2 linked regions of the Homo sapiens genome follow. The main gene of each other region encodes a partner of the protein of the gene in region 2 in a complex. Each region holds a gene or a part of one and is shown on either strand. Other genes may lie near its edges.

Region 1 (7,911 bases), on a different chromosome or scaffold from region 2:
ACAAATGATGTGGAAGTAAATTAAAAGGGTACTCCGTTCTAGTCTAAAATTAATATGAAACTTCCTCTCATCTCAAAGAAAGGTGATAACATAGGGAAATTTTCTGGAAAATAAGCATAACGACAAAGAAAGACAATAGTGAAGTTTCAGTGTGGACATTCTGGAATAGTTGCTACTGATAAACTCTAACCAACTCCTCGCTATTCTACTTCCTGTGGATGTACTGTCCTGTTAGCTCTAGGACCTGGCTCCCTCTAGTTGTTTCTAGTAAGGTATAAGATCTTGTGCCATCCAGTTGTTTATAGTAATGTGTGTACATGTGTAAAAACATATATTTGTGCACATGCAGCCTTAGGCTCCATATTATGTTTTAAAATCTACATAATTTGCTCAATAAGCCCAGAAATTCAAAGGGCAAAGATTTGCAATGCCTGGATAAGATTTTTATTTTCTTCTGCAATATGATCATTCTATAATTAGATTATCATATGTTAATGGAAGAAAAAGAAAAAAGTCATTTATAAAACAGACATAGCTTAGATGTGAAGACCTCCCTAACTCCCTCAAGCCAGGTGATCAATACTTAGCTTTGTGCTACCACTGCATCATAGACATATGAATATTTATGCTCTTATTATGCTCCTCTTCAATTACTGTCTTTTTTCCAACAAGGGGTTGGCAAATTATGGCCTGTGGGCTAAAACTGGTCCATTGCCTGATTTTTACTACCTGTGAGTTAAGAATGTTTTTTATATTTTTTAATAGTTAAAAAAATCAAGAGGAATAATATTTTGTAACACATTAAAATTATATGAAATTAGAATGTCAGTGCTATAAATAAAGTTTTACTGGAACACAGCCACATTCATTTACGTATTGTCAATGGCTGCTTTTGTGCTACAATGACAGATCTGAGTAATTGCATCAGAAACCATATATATGGCCCACGAATCCTAAAATATTGACAATCTGGCCCTTTATAGAAAAAGTTTGCTGATCCCTGTTCTAACAGAATGAGCTCTTGAAAAAAGAACTATGCCCTATTGACAAATGCCTAGTATCTAATGAAACAACACTTAATAACTGCTTGTTGAATATGATTAAACTATGCTTCCACTATAGAGAAAAACTATACTTTGATCCAAGAGTTCAATAACAACAAAGAGAACAATTTTGTTCCTCAAAGAACTTGACCTGATACAGTAACTGCAGATATCAACTTAACAATTTGTTTACTAACAGCACCAATAGTAATAAATACCGCTTACCTAGCATCTCGCATCTTGATATACCCTATTTAGTGGAATTCCCATAAATCATTTTGATAAGTTATCTCTCATTTACCAACCTAAGAGTGAAGGCAAAAGAGAGGTTCCCTGCCCACGTTATTAAGTGAGAGAGAAAACTGAAGAATAAAACAAATTTGGTTATATAATAAATTTATCTGGTTTTATAAAGCACTCAAAAATTGAAGTGGCTATATTTTGGGGGAAGAAGGTCGAGGCGATAACCAGGAAGGAGCATGAGGGGCTTCTGGGTTGCTGGTAATGTTCCATTTTCTGATCTGGGTGATGGTTATATGAGTGTGTGTCCATTCATCAAGCTGTATACTTACTGAAGTGGATACTTTTCTGAATGCTTGTTATGCTCTGTAACTAAATTTTTAAAAACCCACCGGGTAATTGACTTTTAGGACATTTAAAAATAATAAATACAAGGCCAGGAGCGGTGGATCATGCCTGTAATCCCAACACTTTGGGAGGCCGAGGTGGGTGGATCACCTGAGGTCAGGAGTTAGAGACCAGCCTGGGCAACATGGTGAAACCTCATCTCTACTAAAATACAAAAATTAGCCAGGCGTGGTGGCATGCACCTGTAATCCCAGCTACTCTGGAAGCTGAGGCAGGAGAATTGCTTAAGCCTGGGTGGTAGAAGTTGCAGTGAGCCGAGATCGCGTCACTGCACTCCAGCCTGGGTGACAGAGCTAGACTCCATCTCCAAAAAGATAATAATAATATTATTATTATAACAACATATTCTAGTATACTGATTCTCTTAAAAAAATCTCCCTCAGATTTAAGCTTAATCTTCTTTCCTTCAATCTCTGAAAGTTTAAATCACGTTGTATAATTCCTATGATATTTAATCTTTTCTCCAAAAGTATTTGAGTGGTTTGCCTTGAATTTTTTTAAAAGAGCATTTTAAAACATTCTTAGGGCTGGGCACAGTGGCTCACACCTGTAATCCCAGCACTTTGGGAGGCCGAGGCAGGAGGATCACCTGAGGTTGGGAGTTGGAAACCAGCCTGACCAACATGCAGAAACCCCGTCTCAACTCAAAATTAGCCAGGCGTGGTGGCTCAGGCCTGTAATCCCAGCTACTTGGGAGGCTGAGGCAGGAAAATCGCTTGAACCTGGGAGGCAGAGGTTGCAGTGAGCCGAGATCGCACCACTACACTCCAGCCTGGGCAACGAGAGCAAAACTCCGTCACAAAAAAAAAAAGAAAAAAATTCTTTAGTCTTAACCCGTAGAGTCTGATAGAGTCTGTACCTCTATCAAAAGGAGGAAATACAAACAATCCATTAATAGTACAAATAGATGTTTTAAAAAGTTAAAAAAACAAAACAAAACAGAAGTTATAACACAAACTTACAGGAACATATATAATATTATTCCCCCAACTTTTACATTTTATATTAGCATTAGAGTGGCACCTCACCTTTACTCAGCACCTCCATAGGAGTTTGTCGCCAGTCAGTTACACCCACTTTAGAGATGTTGAGATACTCAACCTAAAGGCTTACCTGTGTGTCCTTGGTCTCTGATTTAAAGATGCTGTCCTGCCTGGACTATGCTGACTTCCAAGCCTAGCAGGACTGGTCATATAGTCATTAGGAACTGTTGGGGGTTTAACAGGTTCCAGGGTTTTATAAGGAGTATTCCGTCTAAAGGAGCATAGTGGAGAAAGGAATAATGAATAAAAAAGATAAAATTGTATTTTTCCCAAAAATATGTGAGTCTCCCTTTGTGACCATGTATACCAGGATTTAAAAATATATATGACAAAGTTTGTAATTTTAAAAAATATTCTTCACTGGGATATATGAATTTTGTTACTTTAACATGAAAACTAAAATTTGTTACCTTTTCCTAGGAAAAACATAGGAAAGGGTAATTTAAAGTCCTAACCTTATTTCTAAAAATTATGGTTATAATTTTTTAAATGCTCAATAATAGCAAACTTTAAAATGTACATTTTTCTCAGTACAGTCACCCATAAGCCACTGTTCTTTAAACAGGAAGCTAAATTTATTTACATAGGAAGCTGCAATTTATTCCCATCTCAATATGGCAATAAATGGAGATATACATTCTAATCATTACTTTCTCAATAAATGATTTCGACTATTCTGTTTAATAACTTCATTTTTTTTTTCAGGGGCAGAGGGTTTAATGAATAAAAATGAAAACTAAGACCTTCTTAAAAGAAGACTGATTGTTGAACAACCCCTCTGCCAAAAAATAAGAAATCCAATATAATATTTCCAGTATTAAGAAAAACAACCTTAAAGAAATATAATGCTTTGACAAGTATTCGCTATATTTAGTACACTGAGAACTAGGAAGGAAGAAGCCACTGTTATCTTTTCTACTTGCCCAACTGGCCTTCCCATGGAGCTACTCTAGTGTGAAGAGGCCTAAGATTACCAGCAGAAGCATAGTTACAAGTAAAGTGCATACTTTCCTAAAGTAAAGAGTCCCTAAGTCTCAGACACCAATAGGCGAAACAGAAGAGCTGTGGACTAAGCCATACTACACAAAAGTAGACCACTAGTCAAAGTTCTACAATATAGATACTGTAAACACATGCAAAGGCACCATTTGGAATACTCTAATCATTCCATTTAAAACAAACAAGTCAGATTTATATTTTTTAAAAATTAGATGACAAAAAAATAAATCATGCCATTTATACATACATAAAAACTTTCCTAGTACAGATTATAGAGAATATTACAAAGCTGGCAGATTCATTTGGGATTCTGTTCAGGAAAATAGGAATTAAAATGAATTTGTAAAAGGTAGCGTCACATAGAGAGGGTAGTGTGGCATGGATCCCATACACTTACTTAAGTCACAGAAACATCTTTTCCTTTAGCATATGAATTCTTTTGCAAAATGTAGTTGAATTCTTACCCCAGTGTTCCCCGGCCTGACATGGGAGGACTTGGCGGTTTCTGAGTAGGAGGATTTGTTCTCGACAGTGTGCCAGTTCTTGCAGGCTGGTTATTTCCATGCTAAAATGTAGAAAGAAATGCTTTTATTTTTATATCAAATTGTTCTCCTGGTGTTTTAACACCATGTATTATTTTTTTTAAATATCAGAATGTGAATTAAGGATTCCCAGACAGTTTGAATAAAGACTTTGGTACTACAGTTTAAAAAGTCAAGGAACCACTTGCACTTGGTCTTCCTATTATTTTATGCCATTTATATCACATTGTAGCCAAATACAGGTGAGATGACTGGATTTAATATCTTATTTTATTGTTAAACATGTTCACTGAGATCAAACTTATCTGCATTCAAACACTGGGTTTCCTAAAATTTTTGAAATGTGTGCATGAACACAAACTATAGATCTTACTTGTCAATTTGCTCAAATACGCATCTGAAAAATCATCTTCATCCTAACAATTCAGTAACAAAGTCACATATGATGTCTGGGAAACCTCCTAATTGTAAGTCAATGAAAGCAAGGCAACTATCGAAAAATGAGCAAAGCAATAAATGTTAGCAAAATTAATGTTCCTATATAAACACAGATGTCAATATATCATTGATATATTAACACAGCCAAGCTAAATGTTGCTTATTTGAACTGAACTTGAGTATTAAATAATCTACATAAATCCTACAGGGAAAAGCAGACAGACATAAGAAGAGTTTTCAAATTTTAGTGGCTCTGCAGCCTCTATCAATACAGAGGAAATACTGTGGATCAAATGATAAGTAATGGCTCTTACCTTGGCTTTTAGCCACTTTACGTTGGCAAAAAAAGGGGGGGAAAAAGTAGACATTAATGCTAGGTAAGTTATATCCGATAGGACAGGTTTACATTTACAGTTACTCAATTCATGTTAATAAGCTTTTTTCCAGCCATGTTTCAACTACTTTGTAAAGAAAAAGAGATCCATACGTACTGGGGAAATACTCATGTGTTTCATGTATTTTTCAAAAGAATTATATTCATAAGGAAACCACCACTTAATTATTCCAATCTCATGCAGGCTCAATGATTTTTTAAGTCAGTATTTTGTCCTATGGAACTAATCCAACCGAGTAACAGATGATTTTAAAAATACGCTCATTTAAATACAAACACCATAACACATTAGATGTGAAGCTATTTTAACATATCGGTGCATGAGACCTAACACTTTACTGGATAATGAATGTCCAAGTATGAGTATTCATTACTTCAATGGTAGTATAGTTTAAAAAGTGATAAACTGCAAACATTAAAATTCAAAACCACAGATTGCTTCCAAAAATGAAAAAAGGACCTAGTATCTCGATGTTTAAAAACAAATTCATCATGCACAGTGATAACTTAGCCAGATTCTAACTAAGAAATAAACAAACAGGGTCTGGAAAACTCTCTCATTCCTAGCTTCTGAACCCCAATCCTGTGCAGGCCAACACTAATAGGAAGTTCTAAGTAGCTTTAGTTCTAAGTTTTCATCTGAGCCAGTTAAGTCAAAATTCAAAGTTGAAGAAAAGTTGTTTTGATCCTAAAGGCTACTTCTATTAAAGCTGACTAGCCTACACAACATGAAACAATGTGTAGTCCTAAAGCATCACTACTTGTACAATGCCACTAAAAAAAAATATCTTCAGGTTTTAGAGTCTAATTTTTTACAGATTTGGGGGCTTCAAGCTTTTTTTTTTTTTAAATAACATCTGACATTCTCAACAAGTAACTACCATTTTTCAGGTGGCCACAAGGCAGTATCAAAGGAAATCATCCAAAGGAGAGATTTGGTGTCTTTTGGATACATTCTCATTTATAGAAACTGTGCGAGAAATTTGGTACACTTCAATATTTGTTTAAAATGATACTGCTTACTTCTATCTGGAAACAACATCTGGTACCCTACCTAACCATGACATTTCACATCTAGAGAATAAATTTTGAGTATAACATTATTAGGATCCTTGAAGATAAAATACACTAATGTATACTTCAGTATCTGTATTATGATATATACTATACATGTATAGTATATACTTACATAGCAATGTATATCTTATAATGTATATACATAATACTAAATACTATCCTAAAATAACCAAGAAAATATTCTAAATATGTCCACATATCTTCCTTCATTTGTCATTTCAAGTGGATAAGAAACAAAAAAATTAGCATTCAAGTATAAGCTGGTCCCAAATGGAAAGAATAAAAGAAGAATTAGATTGGGAATGAAAATTCTACTTGAACTCTGTGCTACTATGCAATGGTATAAGCTTTAACCTCTTATGAAGTTCGGCCTCCTCTATTAAGTGTTATTAGACATGCAGATGTGTCAATGTTGGCAAGTGTTAGTAGGAAATAACCTCTACATCTTACACCTCAAAATACTAATATTTTTGTTAGAAATCTATAAAATTTTTTATTTAAATATCCCCAAAATATATCCAAAATGAAACTTTTTTATTTCCTTAAGATCTCATTTCAGGCTAGGCACGGTGGCTCACACCTGTAACTCCCAACACTTTGGGAGGCCAAGGCAGGTGGACTGCTTGAGCCCAAGAGTTTGAGACCAGCCTGGGCAACAAGGCGAAACCCCTTCTCTTGAAAAAAAAAAATAAAAAATTAGCCAGGCATAGTGGCGCACACCTGTAGTCCCAGCTACTTGGATGGCTGAGGAGGGAGGATCACTTGAGCCTAGAAAGTTGTGAGCTGTGATTGAGCTATTGCACTTCAGTGAGACCCTGTCTCTTTTTAAAAAAATCTCACTTTGTTTCCTTAACATTTACCTTTATGGATGAGTAATTTTACCATTTGCCTGGAATCTGTTTGAAATTCCCTTTGATTCCTCCCTATCTTCTAAGTACATCATAGTTTTGTATGTCATAGGCACTAAATGTCTAATGCTAATTCTTTTTTTTTTTTTGCTGGCTCTGTTGCCCAGGATGGAGTGCAGTGGCTCAATCTTGGCTCACTGCAACCTCTGCCTCCCGGGTTCAAGCGAGTCTCCTGCCTCAGCCTCCCAAGTAGCTGGGATTAAAACTGTGTGCCACCATGCTTGGCTAAATTTTGTATTTTTAGGAGACGGGGTTTCACCATGTTGGCCAGGCTGGTCTCGAACTCCTGGCCTCAAGTGATCCTCCCACCTGAGCCTACCAAAGTGCCAAGATTACAGGCATGAGCCACTGCACCCAGCCAAGGCCAATTCTTTCTTTGAAATGATTCTTAACTCACTCCTCTGCTTTATAAAATAAAAATTAAAAAAAAATCTTCCTATGTAAACATTATAAAGCTTTAGTTTCTACACTGTTTTAAAAAAATTAATCAGAAAGCCATTAGGCTGAGACCATTAGGCTGAGACGGCTCCAGCATTCTGGGTTCCTACTTAGGCAAACCAAAACACAATTAAAAGAAACTTAATCAGAAACCTCCAACTAACCTCTAACTAGGAACTTTACTAATCAGAAACCACAATTAACTTCTAACCAATCAAATATTTTGCTTGTCTTGCTTTCTTGAACTTCTACCTGCTTCATGTCTCCTGTGGTCTGAAGCTGCCCGATTCATGAATCACTGTAAACTAAAACTCCAAAAAAAGTAACACATCTAAGCTTATCTTTTAAGACCAATAATAAAATCTAACAACTCCTAGATCA
Region 2 (8,822 bases):
AGGATACTGTTTTCTATTTTCCTCAAGCCTCACCATAACCATATGAGTTATCTTGGCATTGACACTTAAAAGAGGTTATACTAGTAGCCACGAGCAGGTGCCAAAAGAGCTAGATGCGTGTGTGTGTGGTGGGGGTCTTGGGAGGGGTGGGGGTGATGGTCTGGGAAGGTTAACCAACAGGGGTCCCAGATAGAGGTCAGAGGAAGAGGCAGCAGTAAGAGCTACGGAACTGCCCCAGGCCCACTCTTTGGTGCTCAGGGGAACCTGGAGGTGGTGAAGACGCTAGAGGGGAAACCCTCCTTCCCCCAGCTTTGCACACAGCAGCCCCATCTGTAAACTGTTTTACAGACTAGGCTTTAGAATAAAGGTGCTAGTGCTAAAAGGAAAAAAAAAACAACAACACACACACACAACTTTTAAATACTTTTAAATATTGAAAACCACCTCCCCCATTTCCCTGACAAAGCCAAAACGGCGGCTGAGAAGGCTGCTTAAAATCACACAGCTACTGGATTGGGCGGCTGGGACCAGGAGCCCACTCCGACCAGTGAGTCTCGATGCTAGATTCCCACAGATGCTGTTATCAAACAGGGACCCTTCAGACTTCTGCCCCAAGAGGGGCTCACAGGTCAACTCCAGAGACCTTTCTCTAGTTCTGAAGATCTAGACTTCTGTGCAGAGCTGATGATTTTAGGTGATAAATGGAACACTGCATTATTTCACATGAATGAGGCTTAAAATTCTGCCTGACCTAGCTTGACTCCTACTGCTGCCTCATTTTGTCCCAAGTGGGTTTTTAAAATAAAGACATAGCAACAGTTGTATGATTTAAAATGCAACATAACTAGAGCATATTCAGATGCAAAGTAAGGTCTCTTCGAATTTAATTTTAGAGCTAAGATGCCTTACTTAGCAGAGGAAATTGAAATTAGCATCTCATTCCAGCAAAACATGTCTTCAAAAGCACTGAGCACAGATGAAGCAGAGCAAGAGCATCAGGAGACAGCGTGCCAAGTGTCACCAAACGCCGGTCGGCAGCGTGCCAAGTGTCACCGAACGCCGGTCGGCAGCGCGCCGAGTGTCACCAAATGCCCATCGGCCACCCACTGCCCCACACTGCTCCAGAAGCACACACTGGGCCATGCCTGCCTCTTCCGCTCGTCTTGCCAGCCTCTCCAGAGGCTAGCTTCTCCAGAAGCTCTCTACATCCAGAAAGAAAACCACCAGGGAGAGGATCTGGAAGCGCAGTGTGACCACGAGACACCCTGTGACTGTGCACGGGCCACGTCTGCACATTGCTGGGATGGTGCTCATGTGCTGGGGACCCCCGCTGGCGAGTGACCGGCACCGAGGACTGCAGCCCCAACGCCCAAGGTAGGCTGCAGAGGCCACCTGCCCCCTTGCCAAGATGCTCCCTGAGCCAGATGCCTGTGCTCTGTGAGCTAGGCCTACATCTTGTGCATGTCTGTCTTCCCAGGGGCTCGAAGGTCCTCTGTGACATCTGAGGACAGCCAGGGCACGAAGAGCCTGCTCTAGCTGTGCAAAGCCACGATATGCACTTATCTGCTGGCTCCCCTCACCTTATCCCTCGAAGCAGGTGCTCACACAGCCCTGACACTGAGACGTAGCTGCTGCCTACCAGAAGTGACGACTTCAGCAAACAAAGACGCACACCTGCTGTGCACAAGGCAGGCCACTGAGCTGGGTGCTCTCGGGAGGGCCCGCAGTGCGCGAGGTGGGTGCTCACCTCTTGTACGCTGAGTGGTCGTTCTTCACACTGCACTTCATGTTCTTCAGCTCGTCCAGCACAGCGAACATGTTGATGAATTTGCCCAGTGTGATCAGGTAGGCTTCTGACACGAAGTCCTTCCTCCTCTCGGCATGGCACAGGCGCCTCACTTCCCCGCAGAAACGCTCAATGGCATTTCTCTGTGCAGAGGAAGCAGGAGGGCAGAAAGCTGCAGGTCAGTGAGGAGCCAAGCCCATGTCCCTCCTTCAAGCACCTGCAGTCACTGCTCCTCGATGAGAAACGATCTGCCCAGTGAGGCTCCAGGCCGAAGTGTTTACAATGTGGGCAACCAGACCCCTTCCTGAAAGCAGCTCCCACTGCCTGCTCTGCACCATCATTACTTGACTTGCACTTTACCAACTACATCACTAAAGTAACAAAATCTTGCTGATTATTCCAGCAAAATTACTGAGCAAAATGCTCCAATAAAACGCCTGTAAAATTCAGATGTTCTAACTTTCAGAAGTGAAAACTGGGAGAGATTTTTTTCCTCTTGGTAACTTTCAAGGTAAAACAAAAATTCATCTCCCAGTTAGTTCCATCTCCTCCCTTTGCTGAAGGACATCATCATAAAAAATCTGGATGTTTCCAAAATACTTCTTTAAAAAGCAGCAAGCCCCTTCCATGTGGCTACTTCTTGCCTAACCAAGGCCAGGGCGAGGACCACCAGGAATGGACAGTCAGGGTGAGGCTAACAGCAAGAAAATACCTGAAAGAGCAGACGAAAACAAAAGTACAAATTGGCCAGGCGTGGTGGCTCACACCTGTAATCTCAGCATTTTGGGAGGCCAAGATGGGCAGATCATCTGAGGTCAGGAGTTCAAAACCAGCTTGGCCAACATGGTGAAACCCTGTCTCCACTAAAAATACAAAAATTAGCTGGGCGTGGTGGCGGGCACCTGTAATCCCAGCTACTCAGGAAGCTGAGGCAGGAGAATCGCTTGAACCTGGGAGGCAGAGGTTGCAGTGAGCCGAGATCATGCCATTGCACTCTAGCCAGGGCGACAAAGCAAGACTCTGTCTCAAAAAAAAAAAAAAAAAAAAAAAGTACAAACTGGCAAAAAGTCAAAGCATTGTACTTGAAACTGACAGAAAGCAGGCTCCATGAAGGAAACATAAAATCACTCTCAGAGAAGAGAAGTGAACCACAAAAGGAGCGTTGATTCCGAAAGGGCATGAGGAACTTTAGACTGTCAAAGGCTTGGTCCCTTTTGTCTCAGAAACTGGTTGCTTTAATTTGCAGGCACTCTGTTCAGGGTGTTCACAGTGACAGTGATGGGTAGGAAGGGGTCAGCAACCCACCCCTCGGTGTTACACCCCCCCCAGATTATTTGCCATTTTACCTGGAAGTACATGAAATTCATCAGTTTTGTGACCTCAGGCTCCAGAACCTCCACGGTTTTCTCGTAGATTTCCACTCTGTTAGGCTGCTCGTTACATTTCACCTGGGAATAAAGGAACAAGGATGACATAAGAGGCTTTGATCCAGCCAGAAGCAGCCGCTGGGCTTCTAGAGCTAGTGATCCCGCCCTGCTGTGGGGTGAGAACTGGGAGGAGAGTGGGCCAGGCATGGCAGGGGCAGGGGTGTGGTGTGGCAGGGGCCTGGCAGGGTGTGGCTGGAGGGGAAGAGCCAGGCGAGCGTGGCACCTGTGGGATGGCCCGGGAGCAGCTCCTCCAGGTGTACAGCATGACAGCATATTCTTGGCCCTCCTCCAGCATCTCGTTCTGCAATGGAACACAGGGCAAATCAAAGGCAGGCGGGGGAACTAGCATGAAAAGCAGATGCCAGTTGCTAAAATCCAGACAAAGCGCCACAAACTATCCTAAGCACTGTGGCCTGTGTGCCAAGAGACGGCTGCCAGAAGCTAGTGACACTGAGGTGCGGCGCTGGGGGCCACAATGACCACCCAAAACACCCCATGGCTTCTGCAGGCGAGAGGGGTGTCAGTGACACGCAGGCATCTCTGAGGGGTGCCACAGGCGTTACACCTTGGCTCCACCCAGCCCTCAACAACCTGCTGGCCATGAGACCTGCAGTTAGGAACACAGAGGAAGGGCTCAGGGCAGACGCCCTGCCCGGTGTGAGCACACACAGGATCCCCATGGCCTCCTCACTGGCTCACAGGGCCTCCCGGTCCCAGAGAGGACTAGAGGCAGGGCTGCCAGCCCCGGGTGTGCAGGAGGAAAAGTTAGGAGCACGCCCACAGCACTTAAAATCTAGGTAGAGAGTCCATGGGAAGAGGACTGTCATCACTGCTGTAAAACTGCTTTTGCTTTCCACTCTTTAACATCGTTTCCTTTGGAAAAAATCAAATAGATGCTCTTAAATCTAGCCTTTATTTAGTGAGACGTTCATCACAGTATTTTTTTTTTTTTTTGAGACGAGTCTTGCTCTGTCCCCCAGGCTGGAGTGCAGTGGCACGATCTCAGCTCACTGCAACCTCTGCCTCCCGGGTTCAAGCAATTCTCTTGCCTCAGCCTCCTGAGTAGCTGGGATTACAGGTGTGCGCACCACCATGCCTGGTTAATTTTTGTATTTTTTTTTTTTTGTAGAGACAGGGTTTCACCATGTTGGCCAGGCTGGTCTCGAACTCCTGACCCTAGGTGATCCGCCCACTTTGGCCTCCCAAAATGCTGGGATTACAGGCGTGGGCCACTGCGCCCAGCCTACAGCATTTTTTTATTACACGACATAAAAGAGGAAGTCAATGCGCAAAAATAGTTGAATTGTGGACATTTACAAAATGGTTTACGTAGCCATTAAGGATTGCTTTCTCTAGCACATTTTCATGGCATGAAAATATTCTTGTCCAGGTGCAGTGGCTCAGGCTGTAATCCCAGTACTTTGGGAGGCTGGGCAGGCGGATTCCTTGAGTCCAGGAATTCAAGACCAACCTGGGCAACATGGTGAGACCTCGCCTCTACAAAAAACACAAAAAAGTAGATGGGCATGGTGGTGTGTGCCTGTAGTCCCAGCTACTCAGGAGGCAGAGGTGGGAGGATTGCTTGAACCCGGGAGGTTGAGGCTGCAGTGAGCCCTAATCACACCACTGCACTCTAGCCTGGGCAACCTGAGTGAGACCATCTCAAAAAAAAAAAAGAAAGAAAGAAAACCTGTTGATGAGACCATTAAAATGCAGAACTAGCTAGGTGTGGTGGCTCATGCCTGTAATCCCAGCACTTTGGGAGGCTAAGGTGGGCAGATCACTTGAGGTCAGGAATTCGAGACCAGCCCGACCAACATGGTGAAACCCTGTCTCTACTAAAAATGCACAAATTAGCTGGGCGTAGTGGTGGGCGCCAGTAGTCCCAGCTACTCGGGAGGCTGAGGCACAAGAACTGCTTGAACCTGGGAGGCGGAGGTTGCAGTGAACCAAGATCGCGCCACTGTACTCCAGCCTGGGTGGCAGAGCAAGACTCTGTCTCAAAAAAAAAGCAGAACTATAATAACAATGCAATTCATTTATAAATCTAAATCTCATATGGGCACATACCTGGTGTGTGTGGGTGCAGATCTGGAGAGGGAATGAGCATTAACAGGGCAGGTGCACCCTTGAAACGCTGACAAAGGTTTTCTCTGGGCCAGAGACATTGAATTTTCAGAACCAGCATGTATTGTTTTTACACTAAGAAAAGCAAAGACTGTCTTAAAAATATAAGGCATTTCATTCATTTTCTTCTCTTTTTCCTCACTGCATAGTCTATTGGGATAATACCAAAAAGTATACATCTGTCCTTCAAACACGCCCTTCTCTGCAGAGAGAAACAAAGACACACCGCAACATTACCATGCTAGAGTGGACGGTGGCTTGTTCAATGTATCTTGCGATGCCAGTAACAAATGCATTTCTGTCTTCAAAGTTAGTGTTGAAATTTGGCTGAAGGAAAGGAAGAGAAAAACATCATGTGGGGTCGGAGCACAGGCTGTACGCCCTGCAGCTGCTGGGCACCCACCTGGTAGAGCAGCGAGGATGGCGGGGGCTCGATGCAGGGCTGCTGGTCGGGCAGGGGCAGCTCCTCCAGGAGGTCCACGTTGGACAGCGCGTCCTCCAGAGTCACCTGGGCCGCCATCCTGGGCTGGAACAACACATAAGGACCCCTGTTCTGTGAGGAGAAGGAGGGGACACCCAACAAGCTTCGAGGTTGGGTACCCAGGCCTCTAACCCCTTCCCGCTCTCCCGAGGGCACCGGACATGGCTGACAGGGGCATGATCAGTCCTTGGGAGTTGCGTGTCTCTCTCAGGGCACGTGGGCCAGCAGGCTGGGAGGCCCTGTGCAGCTTATCCTTCCACACTCGCTGAGAACAGGCTCTCCTGGCCTCCAGGAGGGTCACAGTATGGGGCACATGGTTCCTGCCATCCTTCCCACCATGGGGGCCGCCGTCCTGAGTTGCTGGTGCTGAGGACTCTCTCGAGGGTCTGACGACCCCCTCAAAGTGCTGGAGGGGCAGCACCTCTCCAATGCCACATCTGCCCAGCAGAGCCTCCCTAAATGCAGCCACCTCCCAGGTGGTGCCTCCAAACACACTAGGGCCTGACATGGAAAAGACGAGCGCCCTGCCGCCCAACACCAGCTGTCTAGCTGCACAGACAGGCTGAGATTGCAAGGAGTATGGGGCTGCCGCAGGGGACAGAAAGTGCCACACCGCAGCTGGAGCAGAGGTGCAGAAATGAAGGCAGACATCGTCTAAACACACCTTCAGAGCCAGCTCCAGGGAGAGGGGGCAATCTGCCTTCTGCTGAATCTGCTCCAGTCTCAAGGGTACTCAGGAGGAGCTCTGCCCTGGGATGGGACCAGGGGCAGCTGAGCCACATTCTATGAAGGAAAGAGCAGCAGGTGGCCTGGAGGAGACACTGAACAGAAGGAGCCCCAAATCCCTCCTCCAGCACTGGCGCAGGCATGGAGGTGCACAGTGGAACGGGTAGTCAGTCCCACTGCACTGGCTGAGGGTGGAGAAGGGAAGCTCTCCAGGGACCCAGGAAGCCCCAGTGGCAGTGTGGAGAGGAAGCAGCTCAGAAGAGCCAGCCGACAAAATTGCTCATGAGCTTCAAGCCCATCCTCAAGCTGCAGGGGTGTGGATCTGATCCTCTTCACACCCCAAACCCTGAGACCACAGCCAGACAGCCACCAGCGGCACACAGGGGGCAGGTCCAAGTGGCAGTGCAGGAGGCTGTGAAGCCAGAATTGACATGGAGCTGCCACCCACTGAAGGCAAGTCAGAACCACAGCCCAAGTCTCCTCAGGGTGTTTGCTTTCTAAAATAAAAATATCAACATCCTCCTAGGATTTTAACAAGACCCAGATCTCATATCATAACATCCAACCATCCACTTACAGCCCAGATTACTCAGCACACAAAGAACGAGGAACGTATGGGCTCCTACAGGAAAAGAGAATCAACAGATGCCAAAATAACACAGGTGCTGCAATTATCCACCCGACTTTAAAGCAACTACTGTGCTATGAAATGCTCTAACGATTGTAACACTCCCAAACTGAATGAAAAAATGGAAATCAGCAAAAGGCAAACAAAACAAGATATAAAGAAGAACCAAATGGAAATTTCAAAACTAAAAGACACACTACTGAAATGTAAAAAAAAAAAAAAACCTCAGGAAAGATTCAGTGAACTTGAAGATAGAGCAATGTTAAGTTTTCTAATCTGAATACCAGAGAGAAAAAAAGATTGAAAAAATTTTGGGGATCTTCAGGACAAGAGAGAAGGTCTAACATCTGTGCCATGAGAGTGCAAAAGGAAAAGGGGAAACCAAGCAGTGATGAAAAACAGCTGAAAAAAATGACAGAAAACACCCTAAATTTGGAGAAAGTCTTTTGTCTACAGATTCAAGAAGCTCTATGGATCCCAAACAAGACAAACAAGAAATCCACACCCAGACACATCACGGTCAAACTGCTGAACACTAAAGATAAAGGAAAACAGATCTTGAAAACAGCAGGAGAAATGACGCTCAGCAGAGCACAGAGCAACAGTGGGAGGGCCGCGGATTCCCCCCGGGGACCAGGCAGGCCGGAGGGCGGGCACAATGTGCCTAAGCCTAAAGCGGGGACCAGGCGGGCCGGAAGGCGGGCACAATGCGCCTAAGCCTAAAGCGGGGAGGTGCCAACTTGGGATCCTCCCTCAAGATGGGAACGTGTCTTCCAGGAAGGAAGGTGAAGCCAGGACGTGGGCAGAGGAGGAAAACAAAGAGCATGCTGGCCAGCGGTACAGGCTGACAGGAAGGGAGGTGGAAGGAGGCATGGGCTACGAACCACAAAGCAGAGGCAGTAGGCAGGCTAAGCGGCGAGGGCGCAGGACACACAACGACCCCACAGCTCTTCCAAAGTGCTTGGCGGTTAAAAGCAAAAATCAAAGTACTGTCTAATGGGCCTTTCAGTGTACATAAATGTAAATTACACAAATACATAACAAGTAAATTATAAAATATTTCTAGGTATATAATTGTATAAATCATATAAACAAGACAACTGTAATCTAAAAGGGGGAGGGGAAACCTGGATGGGGTAAGATTTCTATGTCCCACTAGAAGTAGTAAAAAGCAGACTTTTCAGATCCTCAGCAGAATATGAAATGTTAATAAGCATGGACTTCGAAATCCTTAGAGCAACCACCGAAGAAAGCTGTACAGCCAGGCGCTGCAGTCCCAGCTACTTGGGAGGCTGAGAAGGGAGGATCACTTGAGTCCAGGAGTTCAAGGCCTGTCTGGGCAACACAGTGAAATCCTGCCTCTTTTAAAAAAAGAAAAATTAACATACTTTTTAAAAAAGCTATCCAAAGCAAAATAGATAACATATAATTTAGAATAAATTAAAACAGAATACTATGTTTTTAAAAACCTAAAAGGAAATAGAGCAATGATAAAGATAGTGATCTAACAGAAGTCAGATAATAAAATGGTAGACCTGAATCGAAACACATTGATAATTACACTATCATAATAATCTAAAAACACCAATTAGAAGAGGTTGTCAGAACAGATAAATAAAATCCTAACCCAACCATATGCCATCTACA

What was found.
Region 1: CYFIP1 (region 2) and ABI1 share a complex: the UniProt entries of both Homo sapiens proteins name them as parts of the WAVE2 complex.

Annotation. Positions count from the first base shown.
Region 1 is NC_000010.11:26,766,048-26,773,958, forward strand, and holds part of ABI1 (abl interactor 1), read right to left. Parts: intron 5,043-7,911; coding exon 5,028-5,042; intron 4,299-5,027; coding exon 4,198-4,298; intron 2,946-4,197; coding exon 2,805-2,945; intron 1-2,804. UniProt on the Homo sapiens protein: May act in negative regulation of cell growth and transformation by interacting with nonreceptor tyrosine kinases ABL1 and/or ABL2. May play a role in regulation of EGF-induced Erk pathway activation. Involved in cytoskeletal reorganization and EGFR signaling.
Region 2 is NC_000015.10:22,941,426-22,950,247, forward strand, and holds part of CYFIP1 (cytoplasmic FMR1-interacting protein 1), read right to left. Parts: intron 6,605-8,822; exon of another isoform or gene 6,486-6,604; intron 5,894-6,485; exon of another isoform or gene 5,867-5,893; coding exon of another isoform or gene 5,861-5,866; coding exon 5,744-5,860; intron 5,668-5,743; coding exon 5,578-5,667; intron 3,515-5,577; coding exon 3,437-3,514; intron 3,235-3,436; coding exon 3,133-3,234; intron 1,930-3,132; coding exon 1,748-1,929; intron 1-1,747. UniProt on the Homo sapiens protein: Component of the CYFIP1-EIF4E-FMR1 complex which binds to the mRNA cap and mediates translational repression. In the CYFIP1-EIF4E-FMR1 complex this subunit is an adapter between EIF4E and FMR1.